Linked DNA regions of Homo sapiens: region 1 is linked to region 2. The links come from fine-mapping of genetic effects on gene expression. A gene starts in region 2. The other region holds a variant in brackets. All regions are shown on one strand. Distances are from middle to middle.

What was found. PIP is the estimated chance that this variant, and not a neighbour inherited with it, causes the effect.
Region 1: its variant is the best candidate, but not a certain one, in a credible set for the expression of TICRR in esophagus muscle (GTEx, PIP 0.83).

Annotation. Positions count from the first base shown.
Region 1 is chr15:89,525,503-89,530,879 of GRCh38, reverse strand. No RefSeq gene overlaps it. Among named protein-coding and RNA genes, the nearest start is that of LINC00928, 4.2 kb to the right of the region's middle. The variant T/C (reference allele first, on the strand shown) is at 2,621.
Region 2 is chr15:89,572,946-89,578,322 of GRCh38, reverse strand. It overlaps TICRR (TOPBP1 interacting checkpoint and replication regulator), which reads right to left and starts at 2,854. Exons shown (of 22, transcript NM_152259.4): 1 at 2,083-2,854. The coding sequence starts at 2,736. RefSeq lists an enhancer at 1,927-2,455 and a silencer at 2,577-2,866.

The sequences.
Region 1 (5,377 bases), 47 kb after region 2:
AGTGCTTTTTTCTCCTGGCTCTTTCCTACTCATCTTTGAACACCCAGCTTAAAGCCACTTCCTCCAGGAAGCTGTCTCATAATAATAATAATTAAAAACCTGTCTCATAATAATAATCCTCAGCTGCTCCTGTCCTCACAGGTGTCTATCCAGGGCTCACTCTCACCACACTGCCGTATGGATGACTGTGCCCCTGTCTGCCTCCCTGCTAGCTCCTTGAAAAAGTCTAAACAGGCTTGATGTCTGGTCGGTGAGCTTAGGATCCAACAGTGCCTCTGCCACTTTCCATCTCCATGACTTTGAACAAGTCTCTGAATTTCTCAGAGCTTCACTTTCCTCATTGGTAAAATGGAGACAGCTCTTTTGAGGCTTGAATAAGATTAAAGGAAACACACTACGCGAAACTTTGCAGCCACAATTCAGGTGCGCAAGAAACATCACACTTACTTATTTTCTTTAGTTCAGGTTAAGTCTGACTGCAGTAGGCTGGAGGGAAGTTTCATTGCCCCTACTGGGCCTTCCTTCCTTCCTTCCCTCTCTCTCTGCTCACACAGTAATATTGGAAACTTTCGTGATGTGCAGAGAATGAGAGAAAGGCCTGAGATCTGGAGTCCCACCCTGGACATCAGAGATTTGTGCACTGGAGTGTGCAGGATGAGGTAGCAGGTAATAGGAAGCGGTCCCACCTCCATCACACACCAGCTATGTAGCCATGGGAAATTTGCTTGATCTCTCTGACTGTCAGTTTTCTCCTTCTTAACATGGGGATGATGATAGTGCCAACTCCACAGGGTAGTTCAAAGCACACAGCTGATCTATAGAAAGCTTTTAGCATAGAGTGAGTGCAAAGCATGTTGATTTAAGAAAGGTTAACTAGGCCGGGCACAGTGGCTCACGCCTGTAATCTCAGCACTTTGGGAGGCTGAGGCGGGTGGATCACTTGAGGTCAGGCGTTCAAGACCAGCCTAGCCAACACAGTGAAACCCGTCTCTACCAAGAATACAAAAATTAGCTGGACGTGGTGGTGGGCACCTGTAATCCCAGCTACTCAGGAAGCTGGGCAGGAGAATCGCTTGAACCTGGGAGGCGGAGGTTGCAGTGAGCCGAGATTGCGCCACTACACTCCAGTCTGAGTGACAGAGCGAGACTCCGTCTCAAAAAAAAAAAAAAAAAAAAAAGGAAAGGTTAACTATTGCTATTATTAGTATGTATAATGGGAGTCAATGTAAATTAAAATGATTATTATTGATGGTATAGTCAGCCATCTTGCTAATTCTTTTGTTTCTAATAATTTGTTTATTGATTCTTTTGGTTTTCAATGTGATCGCATAATCTGCCACTATAATTTTGTTTCCTCCTGTCTGAACTTTACTCCTTTAATTTCATTATCTTGTCTTATGACCTGACTTTGACCTCTGCAGCCATGCTAGGTAGAAGGGGTGACAGTGGGCATTGTCCTCATGTGGATTTTAAAGGAGATGCTTCCTATATTCCCCACAAAGAATGATGTGTTCCCATAGCCTAGAATTCCCCAAACTTTTTGGTACCAGAAACTGGTTTTGTGGAAGACAATTTTTCCATGGAGGGAGTAGGGGCGGCGGGTATGGTTTCTCATAAGGAGCATGCAACCTGGATCCCTCACATGCACAGTTCACAACAGGGTTGGAGCTCCTGTGAGAATTGAATCCCGCAGCTGATCTGACAGAAGGTGGAGCTAAGGTGGTAATGCTCGCTAGCCTGCCACTCACCTCCAGCTGTGCAGCCTGGTTCCCAACAGGCCACAAATCAGTACAGGGTGGTGATGGGGGACCCCTGCCACAGCCTTTCAGTAAATTAAGGTAATCAGTGTGTTTACCTTCTTTCATGCCTGTTTGTGGATCTCTCTCCACTGACCTTTAGACCCTTGACAACAGAGACTGCATCTGCCAAGAATTGGACAAATTCCCCCAGGGTTGAACTTAGCAGAGACTGGCATTAGCCAAGGGTCTAGGCTGCCTGCTCCATCCTGAGGCTGCCCCTGAGTCCAGCCTTCCACCCCATCTCCTAGCCCTCACCTCTCTCGCCAGATACTGAGTCCACCAGTGTTTTGATCTTGGACTTTCCCGCCTCCAGAACTGTGAGAAATAAATTTCTGCTAAGCCATCCATTTTCATTATAGCAGCCCGAGCAAGCTAAGACACCAGGTGAGGGGTCTGGGGCCTGGAGGACCATTGGTAGAGTCAGGGCCTTGGGGACTTGCTTTTGGAAACCCTGCCTGACATTATGTAGGAATGTGAAATCCCTAACATTTCTCATTAAATACAAATTTGCCATAAAATAATTTGAAATTATCCGGGGACATTTCTTGCTCTTCTTTTTGCTACCAAACCATACTTTTAAATTTTGTTACAACATTTTTCATATGTACAAAAAGGAGACAAAGAATAATACAGTACAAATCTGTGGGATTCACCACCTAACTTAAGAAATAAAATGCTACCTAGAGGGTTGAAACATCCTGTGTGGCCTCTCTGATCCACTCTCCTTACAGCAGAGATAACTACCACCCTAAATTTGGAGGATATTGTTCCCATTTATTTCCTTAAACTTTATATATATTCCTTACAGAGATCTAAAGTGT[T/C]TGCCTTTTTTTCAATTGTTACAATGATCTATTAAAATAATTTTTGTAATTTTGCATGTGAAGTTCTTTTGTTACGAGTTACATAAGTTATGCTTGTTCTGATTTTTTAGTCATCGTTAGTCACTTAAGTTCTTGAAGAAGGAGAATAATCTAGCCAATAAATTGATTTCAAGTGTTATGACATGTTTCAGACATAGTTTATAAAGTTGAAGTAATAGTGTGTTTTGTGGACATTTAGCAAAAGGGTCACTAATTTTGACTTTGCAGTTTTCCTTTCATATTTTGAAGCCAGTAATTTTTTTTCTCTAGTCTTATAAATGTTTACGTGAGTACGAAGACCTCCTAGGACCTAGCACTTTAAGGACTTCACACTACTGCCTCTCCCAGTCTTGCCATGAGAGTCCTCGATGGGTACACAGCAGCATTGATATCAGAAGCCAAACTAAAGGTGGTGGTTTGGAGCACCCACTGAGCCAGGCCCCTGTCCTAAGCATTTTGCATCTGTTAATTCACTGACTCCTATAAGGTAGGTGCTACTGCCAGCCCATTTTCCAGAAGAGGAAATAGACACAGCATGGTCACGGCTAGGTAGAAAGGGGTGGGGCTGGGATGTGAACCCAGGCAGTTTGGACACTTCATGATGCTTGCTGCCTGCCATTTTCTGAGCCCCAAATGCACACACATGTACATGTATTTTCTCAGACTCCTCACAAGAACCAGGAATCATCCCCATTTTACAGGAGAGGAGACTGGCCCAGAGAGGCTCAGGGACTTGTTCCAGGTCACACAGCTGAAAGTGACAGATTCTGTGATTCCAAACACTGCCTGTGCCTTTAAGTACTCCACACGACTGCCTCTCCCAAACTTGCCACAAGGCAGCCAGGGTGAGTTCCCTATACCCACTCACTACCTCCATCTCACCCCTCTTTCTGCTGTACAACCTTGCCGGGGAGGGGGGCAGGCGGCGGTCCTGCACGTGTTAAGAGAGGGCGTAGACAGGCACCAGGTGCCAGAGGACCTGACCTCACTGCAGTTCTCTGCCTCTATTAGCCCAGGGCCCCTGCAGTCAGGAGGAGGCTATTTGCAGGCCCTTGGCCCAGGCCTGGCCTCTCCTCACCCCTCCCCACCATCCTTCTCTTTCTCTGGGCTGCTGTCCTGCCCAGGGCAGGTGGCAACCTGGCTGGTTGCTTCCCAGGTGCGATAGTCTCAGCTGACTGCCTCTCCTCCCCCAAGATCGAGACTTATCGGTCATCAGAATCATTCCTGCCATCCAGACCCAGCTCAAGGTCATCCCCAGAAGGTTCCAGCACCTGCTTGCTGCACGGGCCCCCTTCTGCCTTGCCTAGAAATGGGGAGAGAGGGGGTGGCTGGTTTTTTTTTTTTTTAAGAGCCAGATCCTTGCCTGGAGTCCTCTATATTCCAGTGCAGGGAACAGAGCCAGAGTAAAGTTAGAAGGTGAAAGGACAGCAGGCTTTAGATCAGAAGACCAGGGTTTGGTCCCAGGCTCTGTGCCTCCCTTCTGTAACCTTGGACTAGTCACTTTCTCTTTCTGGGCCTCAGTTTCCCAAACTAGAAAGGGTGTTGTGGGGCTAGACACTCTCCAACATCCTTCTCTTCTAGGAGTGTGTGACTAAATCTGTCCCCTGAACCAGAATATTGGGTTTGTGACAGTATTGAGTTTATTATATTAACATATAATAAAAATTATATAGCATATTATAAATTAATTTTTCTTTAGTTAGAAATACTGGCAAACTCATCCCTTGCCATTTCAGGAGGAAGCCTCACGACTGTTCAGCCAAGAAGGAAAGAGGAGACTAAGATGGACCCAACATCTAGAGAAGAGAAGGTGGAAGCAGAGGCAGAAGTGAGAAGTGGGAAGCAGCAAGTGGGAAGGGAAGCCCAGCTTTCCAGTTCTGGCAGTGCAGAGCACTAGAACAGTAGACGGAGCTTTTACAAATGAAACGCCTGAACCTTACCGTAGCCAATCAAATTGGAATTTCTGGGAGTAGAGCTGGGTACGAGTGTTTTTGGAAACACCCCGGATGAGTGTGATGTTCCACGAAGGTCAAGAACCACCATTTAAGAGCAGTGGTTCTCAAACTTTGGCGTGCCTCTGAACCCCCTGAAGAGTTTGGTAAATACAGGACGCCAGACCCCACCTGCAGAGTCTCCCACCCAGCAGGTCTGAATGGGGCCTATATTCATTTCCTGTGGCTGCTGTAACAAATCACCACAAACTCGGTGGCTTAACCAACAGAAATCTATTCTCTTACAATTCTGGAGGTATGAAATTAAAAATGAGTCTCACTGGGCTACCATCAAGGTGTTGGCTGTGTTCCTTCTAGAGGCTCAGGGAGAATCTGTTTCCTTGCTTGCCCCCTCTTCTAGAGGCCACCTGCACTTAAAAGCTTTTTCCCACTTTGGTGTCTTGATTCTTTTTTTTTTTTTTTTGAGACAGAGTCTTACTCTGTCACCTAGGCTGGAGTGTAGTGGTGCAATCTCAGCTCACTATAACCTCTGCCTCCCAGGTTCAAGCAATTCCCGTGCCTCAGCCTCCCGAATAGCTGGGGCCACAGGTGCCTGCCACCACGCCTTAGCTAATTTTTGTGTTTTTAGTAGAGATGGGGTTTCGCCATATTGACCAGGCTGGTCTCGAACTCCTGACCTCAAGTGATCTGCCCACCTTGGCCTCCCAAAGTGCTAGGATTACAGGCCTGAGCCACTGCACCTGGCCTTGGTGTCGATTCTTTATGC
Region 2 (5,377 bases):
TTGAAAATTTTAACATACCATATTATTATTTAAATGCTTGCTCATTTTCCATCTGTAATCTTGCAATTTAACTCACTCCTGGGTTAGTGACATGTATTTCCATTAAGTGGAATCACATCTTTCACTTGGTTAAACCACATTCCAAAGCCTTCCCATTAATTAATTAGAACAAAATCCACATTTTTGACCTTGGCCCTACAGATCGGCCTCTCCTGCTTTCTGACTTTCTCTCACACTGCTCCCCTTGCCTACTAGGTCTCAGCACTCCTTGCCTTTTTGTTTCTGAAACAAACTAAGTTCATTTCCAGCTGAAATCCTTACACCTGCTTGTCTCCTCACCTGGAATGTTCTTTACCTACCTTTGAGTTCCTCCTCCTTCACCATTCAATTCTCTGCTCAAAAAGGCCTTCCCTGCCAGGCACGGTGGCTCATGCCTGTAATCCTAGCACTTTGGGAGGCTGAGGTTGGCGGACTGCCTGAGCTCAGGAGTTTGAGACCAGGGTGGGTAGCATGGTGAAACTCCGTCTCTACTAAAAATACAAAAAAATTAGCCAGGCCTGGTGGCGCCCGCTTATAATCCCAGCTACTTGGGAGGCTGAGGCAGGAGAATTGCTTGAACCCAGGAGGTGAAGGTTGCAGTGAGCCGAGATCACGCCACTGCACTCCAGCCTGGGTGACAAAGCGAGACTCTGTCTCAAAAAAAAAAAAAAAAAAAAAAAAAAAGGCCTTCCCTCACTACCACTCTGTATACAATAACCACCTTCTACTCCCATCCTCTCACCCCATTTTATTTTCTCCAGAGCATGATTTGAAATTGTCACTTGCTTATCTGTTTAATCTGTTCCCTGCTTTGGTTACCATGTCCCCAGCAGCTCAAACAGTGTGGTAGGCACTCAGATGTTACTGGCTTCTCAATGAACATTTGTTGACTAAATGAAGTGCAATGAGAAGGATGAAGGCAAAAGTATATACTTATCCTAGCACTTAACAGGAGCAGGGGGCCTCACCGCCTCAGCAAAAATCCAAATTAGCCATTTAAGACTTTAAGTTTGCAAGAATGTACGCAAGAATGTACTCATTTAGTCAGCCAATACTGACTGAACACCTACAACGTTTAATACACATCTGGGTGGCTGGGCGTGGTGGCTCACACCTATAATCCTGGCACTTCGGGAGGCCAAGGCAGGCGGATTGCCTGAGGCCAGAGTTTGAGACCAGCCTGGGCAGCATGGAACCTGGTCTCCACTGAAAATACAAAAAAATTAGCCAGGCATGGTGGCGTGGGCCTGTAGTCTCAGCTACTTGGGAGGCTGAGGCATGAGAATCGCTTGAACCCGGAGGGGTGGAGGTTGCAGTGAGCCACTGCATTCCAGCCTGGGCGACATACACTGTCTCAAAAAATAATAATAAATAAATATATATATGTATATAAATAAATGTGTATATATATGTGTGTGTGTGTATATATATATATATATATATATATATATATATATATATACACACACACATACACACACACCCCTGGGTATTGTGTTAAAACCTGCTGCTTGCCTCTGAGGTATTTTTAGACTAGATGGAGGGTGAGAGATGTGCATAATCAAAACATATGGAGAAATGGTTAAGTGCCACACAAAATGTGTATGGCAATTCAGACGCTGGACTGAGCAGTTGTCACTGGGAGAAGAAGCCTTAAAGGGTAAGTGAAGTTAAGACTGGCCTGGAAGAGTGAGAACTGGCATTCCAGGCAGATTGAACAACACACATAACACAAAACAAGCAGTCCAGACCTGTTGATTTTCTGGACTGGACTTCAATATGCTAGAGTAGATGTAGTGTGTAGGAAAATCAAGTCTGGGAAGGCAGGTAGGGCCCAAATTGTGAGGGGTCTTAAACAGTAGGTAGTGAGGAACTACCCATTTTGTTGTGAAAACTGTTCCTATTTATTTGTTTCCTTCCGAAGGGACGCATAGTCATATTAGTCTCATTCGGGGTCTGTGGCTGTTCTAAGGACGCTGCCAAGTTCTGGTTAGCAAGGAAAGCACCGTGCACGCCATCTGAGACGACAGTAACCTTCCTTACCTTAGACCATTCGGTGGTATCCACCCAGTAGAAGGTGATTTTTCGGGCGACCATGACTTCCCGGACTCTCTTGGGCAACAACTTCTCCATCACCTGCTTAGGGGTGGGCGGCAGGCGCTGGGCCTGGGCCTCGCACCCAGACACGAACTGCAGCAGCTCCCTCTGCGAGTGCGGACAGGGGGCCAGGAGGAAGACGGCGTTCACCAAGCCCCCGAGCGCGGCCTCGGCCTCCTTGGCCTCGCTCTCCACGTCCAGCAGTCTCCTCCCGCTGCTCCGCAGGATCGGCTTCGTGGGCGACGTGATCTCGGGCCGGTCCCACTGGTAGTCTAGCAGCGTCTCCATCAGGGCGCCGTGCGTGTGGGTGGCCCTGGGCGCCGGGCCGGGCAGGTGGGCGCGATCCTCGAGCCTGGCCTCCAGCTCCTCCTCAAAGTCCTCCCACGAGCGGGACCCCAGCTCGCGGAAGTCAGACACGCGGGACGGCCGGCTCCGCGCCCCCTGCGAGTCAAAGAACTTGAAGGCCCAGTGGACCCTGGCCAGGCCGAATCGGCAACTCAGATAGGTGAGGAGGCGCAGGGCGGCCCGCCGGACCCGGCTGTGGCGGGCGGCGCCGCCCGCGGTGTCCAGCAGCAGCATTACTTTGTGACAGCATGCCATATCGGCCGTGCCGCCGCCCCGGGGCCCCGGTCCGGGCCCGCGCCACCGTCCCTTAGTCCCTTCCTTCAGGGAAACAGCACCACTCACTGCTTTCCTTTGGGACCCTGGTCGAAAGGCTCCCGCGCTCTCCAGGAACTGCTGCTATTGGGGGAGCTAGTTTCCAAGGTTTGCTCCTATTGGCTGCTTGCCTTACGTAAGTTACGAGAGCAACTTCCATTTTTGGCGGTGATTGGAGGGGCAGTGGAGAAAACTTCAGTCTGATTGGTGGAGGGAGTGACGGTGGGCGGGTCTCTGTGGTCCGAGAGAAGCTTAGCATTCATTGGCCTGGGCCTTCGTTTTAAATTTTAAAGAGGTGGTGCCTCGGGGGCGTGTCGAGAAGTTTCGCCATTGGAAAGAGGCCAGCGTTTGTGCGCAGTCGTGAGTGCGGACTGCGGGGCCACGTTTCCCAAGACCGAGGAAAACTTAGTGCCGGGAGGGAATTTGGGATGGTTTGAATCGAACTTGTTGAAATCCCTGTGGACCGCCTAGGAAGTAGAATCTGACGACTACGGCTTTTTCTGTAATTTAAAAAATTTTATTAAAAATTAAAGGTTCACTCCCTTTGCCCCAGTAACTTCTAGGAGTTTATCTGCAGAAGGTAATCGGAGAGCCAGATAAAAGACGTCTGTACATCTTAGAGTTTATTTAACATCAGAAAAAATGGAAACAGTTTGGGAATGGTTAAATAAGGTATGGTACACGCCCAAGGGGAGCATCGTGCAGCTCCTTTTTTTTTTTTTTTTTTTTTTTTTTTTTTTTTGAAACGGAGTCTCGCTCTGTCTCCTAGGCTGGAGTGCATTGACACGATCTTGGCTCACTGCAACCTCCACCTCCCGGGTTCAAGCGATCCTCCTGCCTCAGCCTCCTGAATAGGACTACAGGCGCACGCCACCACCCCAGACTAATTTTTGTATTTTTAGTAAAGACGGAGTTTCACCATGTTGGCCAGGCTGGTCTCAAACTCCTGACCTTGTGATCCACCCGACTTGGCCTCCCAAAGTGCTGGGATTACAGGCGTGAGCCACCAAGCCCGGCCTAGTGCAGCTTCTTAAAATAGTGTTTTATTATGTAATGTTAGGTTTTAAAAGTGGACTGCAAGCAGCACCTGCAGTGAATTCCCTAAATTTTCTATCTACATGTATATATAGATAGAAATCACATGTAGATTTGCATTACAGATAGAAATTATATATCGCTATATAGATAGAATACATAGAATTATATATAGATAGGCCGGGCACGGTGGCTCACGCCTGTAATCCCAGCACTTTGGGAGGCCGAGGCGGGCGAATCACCAGGTCAGGAGATCGAGACCATCCTGGCTAACACAGTGAAACCCTGTCTCTACTAAAAAAAAAAAAACAAAACAAAAAAAAAAGGAATTATATATAGATAGATAATCATAGATAGAAGTTATATATAGATAGAAATGCATTTATATGCATATTTTTAAACTGTTAATATAATATTGTGTACCGGAAGTTGTCTGTGATGGTCTCTCCATGTGATTTTTTTTGAAACTTTTTTACACTTCCTCTTGCTGGACACCAGTGAACAGGCTGATTTCAGAGATGTGAGATGTGCCTCTAGGATCAGTGGAATATGGTATTTGGAAAGAAGAAGGGGACAAAAAATGAAGGTCGGTTACCTGAATATGTGTTTAGGGAGATTGATCCAATACTCCACACCATTGAATTCTGCTTGCTAAGTAATTCTGTTTCCACCTGGAAACAGAACAACTTCCTTTATATGCTTTGGCTACAACTTCCTTTATGTGCCTTGGCTTCTCCAATCAAAGTCCTCAGCAATTACTGCCTCATGTACAACAATTTTCTCTTTTGGTTGAGTTTTCTAGGGCTGCCTGCCATAACAAAGGATCAAACCCAAAAATTGCCTCACAGTTCTGAAGGCTTGATGTCCAAAATCAAAGTGTTGGCATGCACTTGCTCCCCTCCAGCCCCCATGGCTCTAGGGGAGAATCATCCTTTGACTCTTCTAGTTTCTGATGTTTGCTGGCAATTCTTGGTGTTCTTCCTGTGTGTCTTCCCGTCATCTTCCCTCTGTGCATGGCTGTCTCTGTGTCCAAACTTCCCTTTTATAAGGACACCAGTCATGTTGGATTAGGGCCCACCCTAATGACTTTATTTTAACTTGCTTACTTCTACAAGACCCTATTTTCAAATAAGATCACATTCTGGGGGATGCTGGGGGATAGGAGGACCTTAACATATCTTTTTTTTTTTTTTTTTTGAGATGGAGTCTCGCTCTGTCGTCCAGGCTGGAGTGCGGTGGCGCGATCTTGGCTCACTGCAAGCTCCACCTCCTGGGTTCCCGCCATTCTCCTGCCTCAGCCTCCCAAGTAGCTGGGACTACAGGCGCCAGCCACCACACCCGACTATTTTTTTTTTTTTGTATTTTTAGTAGAGACAGGGTTTCACCATGTTAGCCAGGATGGTCTCGATCTCCTGACCTCGTGATCCACCTGCCTCGGCCTCCCAAAGTGCTAGGATTACAGAAGTGAGCCACTGCACCCAGCCAGGACCTCAACATATCTTTTTGGGAGGACACAGCTCAGCTCATAACACCTTTCATCCTTATGCCA